Homo sapiens: one gene and its partner. The protein of the gene in region 1 purifies or fractionates together with the protein of each later gene. This does not show direct contact. Each region holds a gene or a part of one and is shown in the gene's direction. Other genes may lie near its edges. The genes, in order: KIF26B and CBLL1.

What was found.
Region 2: the proteins of KIF26B (region 1) and CBLL1 purify together in Homo sapiens (affinity purification with mass spectrometry; one large-scale study listed by BioGRID and IntAct). This does not show direct contact.

Annotation. Positions count from the first base shown.
Region 1 is NC_000001.11:245,605,720-245,609,542, forward strand, and holds part of KIF26B (kinesin-like protein KIF26B), read left to right. Parts: intron 1-1,931; coding exon 1,932-2,025; intron 2,026-3,546; coding exon 3,547-3,809; intron 3,810-3,823. UniProt on the Homo sapiens protein: Essential for embryonic kidney development. Plays an important role in the compact adhesion between mesenchymal cells adjacent to the ureteric buds, possibly by interacting with MYH10.
Region 2 is NC_000007.14:107,754,017-107,757,839, forward strand, and holds part of CBLL1 (E3 ubiquitin-protein ligase Hakai), read left to right. Parts: intron 1-1,401; coding exon 1,402-1,475; intron 1,476-3,823. UniProt on the Homo sapiens protein: E3 ubiquitin-protein ligase that mediates ubiquitination of several tyrosine-phosphorylated Src substrates, including CDH1, CTTN and DOK1. Targets CDH1 for endocytosis and degradation.

The DNA of each region.
Region 1 (3,823 bases):
GCCTCCGGGGCCCCTGCCAGCTCTTAACACACACCAGATGGACAGCCCGCTGACCACGCTCTTCTCAGTGGAGAGCCGGGTGGGAACTGTGCCAGGGGATGCCGCCCCAACTCTGCACAGCAGGTCTCCTCTCGCCCCCGGCCTCTGCACGGGTGACTCAGTGTGGTCCACACACAGCCAACATTCTCCCAGGTGGCTCAAGAATCAAATACAGCTTATTTTATGTATAGCTCAAGGTGATTTCTCAGCCTCCTGCCTCCCATCCCACTTTATGTCCAAAGAAGGCTTAGTCCATTGGGCAGCCTTCTGCCTGCTCTGCAGACACGCCTCTGGCAAATTCCATCAAGACGCTACTGCTTCTGTCTCAGGGTTAGCACTGGGCTCTCCTTGCCTAAGTCCTGGGGGGTTTGAAAGATCCTGTGTGCCCTACAGCAGCCCTGTCCTGCCACCCCCTCTGGCCCAGGAGGAGCCCCCCGCCCCCCGCAGAGTTGCTGGGGACCACCCTGGAACAAGTGACAGCTGTTGGAAGTGTGGTTTTTCAATTTTAGTTTAGGAGAGAAAACTGATTTCCAAATACTTGGGTTCACTGTGCTGCTGAATAACAACATTCACGGCCCAGGTGCCCACCGGGAGGCACGCTGCCCCGAGGGCTGCAAAGCCCCATGTTAGCACTGCCTCCCGGAGCTCCCACGAGCCCTGACTCCGGCCCCGAGACAGAAATGAAAGCAACAGGGCACAGCGAATAATGCTATCTTTCTGCTTCTGTGACAAGTCTCAGGTGCTAAACAAAGAGAAGGACATTTCCCAGATCTCCAAGTTAGTCCACAAAACCGACAGCTCTGATGGCTCGCAGAGCTCTGTATTAGCGGGTGTTCAGGGGAAATACAAAACATCATCGAGAGCCTGGTCCCTGTCTAGGATTTAATAATCAAATTGGAGACCAGACACACACACCCGGCCAAAGAACACCTAATAACATACCATGTGGTGACTGATACTCTATATGTTGAATGTATCTGTAGCAAAAGGAAGAAAAGGCAGGTTTTGAAAAGAGGAGCATGGGACGGGCGCAGTGGCTCACGCCTGTAATCCCAGCACTTTGGGAGGCCGAGGCGGGTGGATCACCTGAGGTCAGGAGTTTGAGACCAGCCTGACCAACGTGGTGAAACCCCCTCTCTACTAAAAAAATGCAAAAAATTAGCCAGGCATGGTGGCACATGCCTGTAATCCCAGCTACTCGGGAGGCTGAGGCAAGAGAATCACTTGAGCCCAGGAGGCGGAGGTTGCAGTGAGTTGAGATCGCACCATTGCACTCCAGCCTGGGCAACGAGACTGAAACTCCGTCTCAAAAAAAAAAAAAAAAAAAAAAATGAGGAAGGTGTGAATTGAAAATGAGGAAAGAGATCAGGAGAGAAAGCAGATATATATCACAAACCTCTTGCTTACGTGAGAACTACGGTGTTTCTCAAGGTCTCACTTGTGAAATGGTGGGTCACCTTTTTCCCTCTCATAAGCCTGGCCTGTTTAATAAACTCTATGTATACGTGTGTCAGCAGAGGGTGAGTGGAGAGTTTAAAGACCTTATCCGGGACCCCAGAATGGCAGATGAGGGAAGGGAATGAGGTTCATGAGCACACTGTGCCCCCATTCCAGCCTGCTCCTGCCTGCTCTACAGACGCATTCGCTGAAACGTACCACGGATTAGCAGAAGGGTGGTTTGCAGTGCATGTGCATAATGCTCAGGCTTGCAAAGGGCGGAAGGTCGCCAGGGGTTCTGAGCATCTCCAAAACTTCACGACAGAGGCCAACCCACCTGGGAACACAGTGACACTGGGACCCGAAGCCCCAGGAAGGTGGGCTCACTTTCGTTGTTAGTGGTGTCTCCGCTGCGAGGTCCATTCACGGCTCGTGTCTCCTCTTGTGTCTGACAGGCTGAAGTGTGTGCAGGCACCGTGGCAGAGGTGATCCAGTCTGTGGTCAACGGGGCAGATGGCTGCGTGTTCTGTTTCGGCCACGCCAAACTGGGTTCGTGAGAGTTTCACTTTCTCATGCGGCTCGTTGAGCTCCCTGTCATCCCATGCATTCCTCTGTCTCCCTCCCAGAGTTCTCTGATGACAGGAAGGGCTGCGTTTCTCTTAGGTGTTGAGCTGAATAACCAATAACAAGTTATACGACGAAAACCTATGTTGTTCATTGTAGGTGGACACCCATTCATGTAGGAAAGCCTTCAAGTCCAAATAGATGGAAAGAGAAGTAGCAGAGTTGTTCCCACTTGGTCCAGGTCAGAGTCAAGCCCAGAAGGCAGGCAGGAAAATATTCATTTCCTGAGCAGCCGCTGTTTGGGAAGCAGATAGGGCCCCTTGCACCACCGCACCCATGAGGATGTGGGTTGGTGGTTGGACCCCTGTAAAAGCCAGAGGAGCAACCTCCAAGCAAAGCCCAGAGCCCAGGGCGCGTCTGGAGAAAGCAGTGCACACCGTCGGGAACACTCCAGCGCTGAAGCGTCTGGGAAAGGAGGCAGCAGAGCCCCCCAACAAGGGGTTCATAAATCCCCCCACAGTCCCATCTTACTTCTGACCTGTGGCCATCTGCTCCCCAGGCCTTGCCCTTACACGCTTGATATGTTTAGTGAATTGAGGAGCTTCAAAAACTGTCCCTTGGCAGAGATTCCAACAGAGGCCTTGCTGGAGCTCACAGAGGCCAGTTCTCAGCCAGGACAGAAAGCCATTGCCTCTCTCTGCACTTCCGTCCTCCCCAGCCCTTTCTCTTGATCTTGATGTAAGCAGTGATCTGGGTTTTAATAGAATTTGCTCATGCCATAAAAATATACACAGCATTTAACTTGAGACAGGATATAAAGTGTGAATATGTGGACTTAATCTGGGGGGTAACTATAAAAAGAACCATAATGATGATGAAAAAGCCCAGCCTTCCCACTGTGTGTAAAGCAGTGCAGGAACTGGATAGCATGTGATATTTGGGGTCCTCCTCAAGGTACATGGTGATTTAATCTTGTCACATGTCTGGGCTCTTGCTTTGTTTCTTTTTTTTTTAAGAGATGGCTCTCAGTTGCCTGGGCTGGAGTACAGTGGCATGCTCATAGATTACTGTAACCTCCAATTCCTGGGCTCAAGTGATCCTCTCGCCTCAGCTTCCCAAGTAGCTGGGGCCACAGGCATGCCCCACCACACCCAGATAATTTTTAAAAATTTTTCATAGAGGCAGGGTCTCCGTATGTTGCCCAGACTGGCCTGGAACTCCTGGCCTCAAGCAATCCTCCCATCTTGGCCCCCACAAAGTGCTGAGGTTACAGGCATGAGCCACTGAGCCCAACCAGCATTCTTTATTGTAGCCATTTAGTTAGTAATACCAGAAAATGCCTTCTGTTGTTGTCAAATACTATTTCTCTCATCTTTTTGTTCCTTCTCTTCCCTTTTCCCCCCTTCCCTGTGCCTTTCTTCTATATCCTTGGCATCTATTTTGGAGACTCCGTGGAATGATGCCTGGACACTGAACCTGCTTTTCTTCCTTCCCTGGTTCTCCCAGGAAAATCCTACACCATGATCGGAAAGGATGATTCCATGCAGAACCTGGGCATCATTCCCTGTGCCATCTCTTGGCTCTTCAAGCTCATAAACGAACGCAAGGAAAAGACCGGCGCCCGTTTCTCAGTCCGGGTTTCCGCCGTGGAAGTGTGGGGGAAGGAGGAGAACCTGCGGGACCTGCTGTCGGAGGTGGCCACGGGCAGCCTGCAGGACGGCCAGTCCCCGGGCGTGTACCTCTGTGAGGACCCCATCTGCGGCACGCAGGTGATTGCTTCTGA
Region 2 (3,823 bases), on another chromosome or scaffold:
TGCATAGAGGTGGGGTTCTGAAATTTAGATAGGTTTATCATTGTTTAATGACTAAGTTTGCAAAATTTTAAATAAGTATGAAATAACTAAGGGAAGTATTGGAATACTATGAATTTAATATGATTATCTTGACAAATTGTTGAATTCTTATAAAATATTAAATAAAACTGAAAATTAGAATAATTTCTGAAAACTAATTCCTTTGGAGTGTTTGATACCAGTGAATTTACAGTTATTCTAGTTTATTAAGGAAATTTTTGTTTCTTAATAAATAGAACAAAACTGCTTATTTTTGAAGGCCACAATTTTTTACATAAAACTGCATTAATAATATTTATAATTTCTCTTTTTTTCCTGAGGCTCAGAGAGGCTTAATAGTAATTATTATTTCTGAAAATTGAATTATAATCATTAAAAAAATTTTACAATCCTAACTGTAATTTTATAGTAATTTTCACATTTCTTCCCTCCAAAAAAGATAGTTTTGCATTTGCCTTTAGAAAAAAAAAATTGAATTCAATAACATACCTGTGATGGTAGATGGCATGGATTATGCAGTGTTGCTTTGCTGAACATCATAGTAAAGAAATAGTAACAGGCTGTGAATTTAAAAATGTGCTTCTAACATCATTTAATGTATCCTTCTGATTGATTTTTAGATTTTTATTAGTTAATTAACTTGAAACTACCAGAGGAAGATGCTGCTTACGTTAAATATAGGACATACTTGTTATTTTACTGCATTGGAATAGTTTCAGGAGAAACAAGATTAAAAAAAAAACACACATAATTAAAAGTATTCTTCAGGAGTTTTTGACCTGCAGGGGGCTGGGTGTGGTGGCTCACACCTATAATCCCAGGGCTTTGGGAGGCTGAGGTGGGAGGATTGCCAGAGGCCAGGAGTTTGGGACCAGCCTGGACAATTTAGTGAGACCCTGTCTGTACAATAAAATAAAATAATTAGCCTGCTGTGGTGGCACACACCTGTGTTCCTCGCTATTCTGGAGGCTGAGGTGGGAACATCAGCCAGGAGTTTGAGGTTACAGTGAGCTGTGATCACACCACTGGACTCCAGCCTGGGCAACAGAGCAAGATCTGTTTCTTAAAAAAAAGGAAAAAAACGTGTGGGGACCATGGGTGAAATTTATAGGGTTTACACCTCCAGAAAGTATAAGCAAATGCATGTGTGTACATTTATTGGGAAAAGAGCCATAGTTTTTGTCATGTTCTCAAAAGGCTTTGTGATTGAAAAAGGTTATTATAATTAGTACTTAATAAATGTTCATTTTAACAGGTATTCTCAAGTGTCTTCTAAGCCTTATGTATAGGTTACTATATATATATATTTTAAAAATATTATAAGTTCTAATATGCTTAACTGTAATATGTCTTTGTTTACAGATTCCATGCAAGCATGTTTTTTGCTATGACTGTGCTATTTTACATGAAAAAAAGGGAGATAAGATGTGTCCAGGGTAAGATAAGATTATCATTACCTTTTTTAAATAATAAAGTTTTAGTGCAATGATTTATAAGTTGGATTAAAGGTTAGGGAGTGATGTAAATCAGGCAGGAGATGAAACATACAGACATGGCTAATCTTTTTCTGTGAGCCCAGCTTGTGTTAGGTTTCTCTTTAATATAGGGCAAGGTAGCCACTATCAGTCAACTCAAATTGGTCAAAATGAAATCTGTTTGCCATTATAGAAGTATTATTATAAACAAAAAAGTTACTTTTTTTAATGGGACATTAAAGAAGTATTAAGATATATTGAGAGCAAAGACTCCAGAATTAGAATTCCTGGGTTCGAATCCTTGTTCTGCTATTTATTAGCTGTTTTACTGTCATAGGCTATTCTTTATTGATAAAATGAGACTGATAATAGTACCTACCTCCTTGAGGTATTTTTAGGATTAAATGAGGTTTTATATATATATAACATATGTACACAGATACATATATATAGTAGCTGGCATATAGTAAGCACTGTATATATAAGCTCTTGTTACTTTCAAATCTGATTATTGTATTTGGAGTATGTCTTAGAACACCATCATTACATAGTCTCAAACAAGTTATAAAAAGCTAGGTCCATTTTGGGATGGTCTTGAAGAAAACAGAATAAGAATTTTTATATCAGTTCAGAATCGTTGATAAGGAAGGCTTAAGAAAGAATGAAAGATACTTGCTTGGAGTAGCCATAGGCTTCTTAGATCACTTATAACCTGTGCTTAAAGCTATACCAAGATTTGTGGTATTGATTGATAACAAAGCTGTGGACACTTGTCAGCAATGATTCCCTTTTATGGTGTAGGAAAATTTGACGTCACCAGGAGAGAAAGGGGTGATTTATTAACAGCTCAGTGACAACTAATTCTCTTGGCATGTTTTTATTAGCATTTTAAAGTAACAGATTATAACATTTGTTCTATGAATTTAAAAAATATTTTGTTTATAGAATTATAATTCAGAAGAATTAAGACATTAGAAATACATATCACTTGTTTTTTGGGTGTTTTCTCTCAGGCCTAATTTTTCAGCATGGTATACATTCATTTTAAGTTACATAGTAAATTTAATTGCTTCATCGGGATAAAGGATTTCAGATGTGATAAAACATTATTTAGAGGACTTTTAAAGGTTTCCTCTTTTGTATAAGTATTAAAAGGAAATTAAAAGGTACTTATTGTTTAAAGAAATTACTTCCCAAGGTACTAAATGTAACTAATGTACTGAATATTCTAATGTACTAACCTTACTAATGGACTTAAATGTAACAAAGTACTAAATGTCACACCTCACTTATGTGGTCCTTAGTAGCAATTTTAGGACAGAAGCCTATCTGGATTAACAGACCCAGATCAGGAAGTGAAGAAATGGCAGTCAGAGTTAAACAGTATATATTACTGTTCTTAAGCACCACCCAAGAGAAAGTGCTTCACATCTTGTTAAGGTGGAGATAGTTCGGAGTTTACAGTGAACTAGAAGCAAAAAGTGTGCCAGATGGCCACTAAAGGGAAGCATAATAACATCAATAAGGAGTGCCAGCCTTATAGTAAGGATGGAAAGATAGACACAACTCAAAATCAAGAGTATAGAGCCATTTAGTATAGTGTCAAATGACCTGACACACATATTCAATGATAATTGCTTATATATGTACACACACATATATTTATATATAGTGCTTAATTGGGGATTAAATACTGTCACTTTCATTGTTTCATTTGATATTAATATTCTTTTAGGTAATATGAAATAGATATAAAAACATTGTGAAGTAGGTAGATACTTTAACCTCATTGTATAAATGAAGAAACAAACTCAAAAATGGTTCAATGACTTCAAATTACTGAGCCAATACCAGATCCCAAGATCTTCAGATTCCTATTTCAGTCCTCTTTCCCCACTGTGTCAAGAAAGCTGTAATGGCAATTATGGATTAAATATGGTAAATGAAAAATAGTTATAATTTTGACCCTGAGTTTTTAAGAAAATGTTAAGTTAAATTTAGTGCTCACAAATTAGAAAGTTAGCAAAGTGTAAATTTGTCTGACAGTTCAGAAAAAACCCTTCTTTAAAGGACTTTTAGTAGTCAAGGCTTGGATTGAAATTGTTTGTTTAATGTTAAGAACCCTAATGATGAGGCTGATGTTACTTGTTGTAGTCCTTGCAATGTCTTCTACTTACTGTTTTCCACTTAGTATTATTTGCTCAACAAACAGTTATCACTCAATAATACCATACTAGTTTGAATTCCATGATTGTAAGTAATCTACCCGTTGGTTTTTTTCTTGCTGGGTTTTTTGGCAAATGGATGCA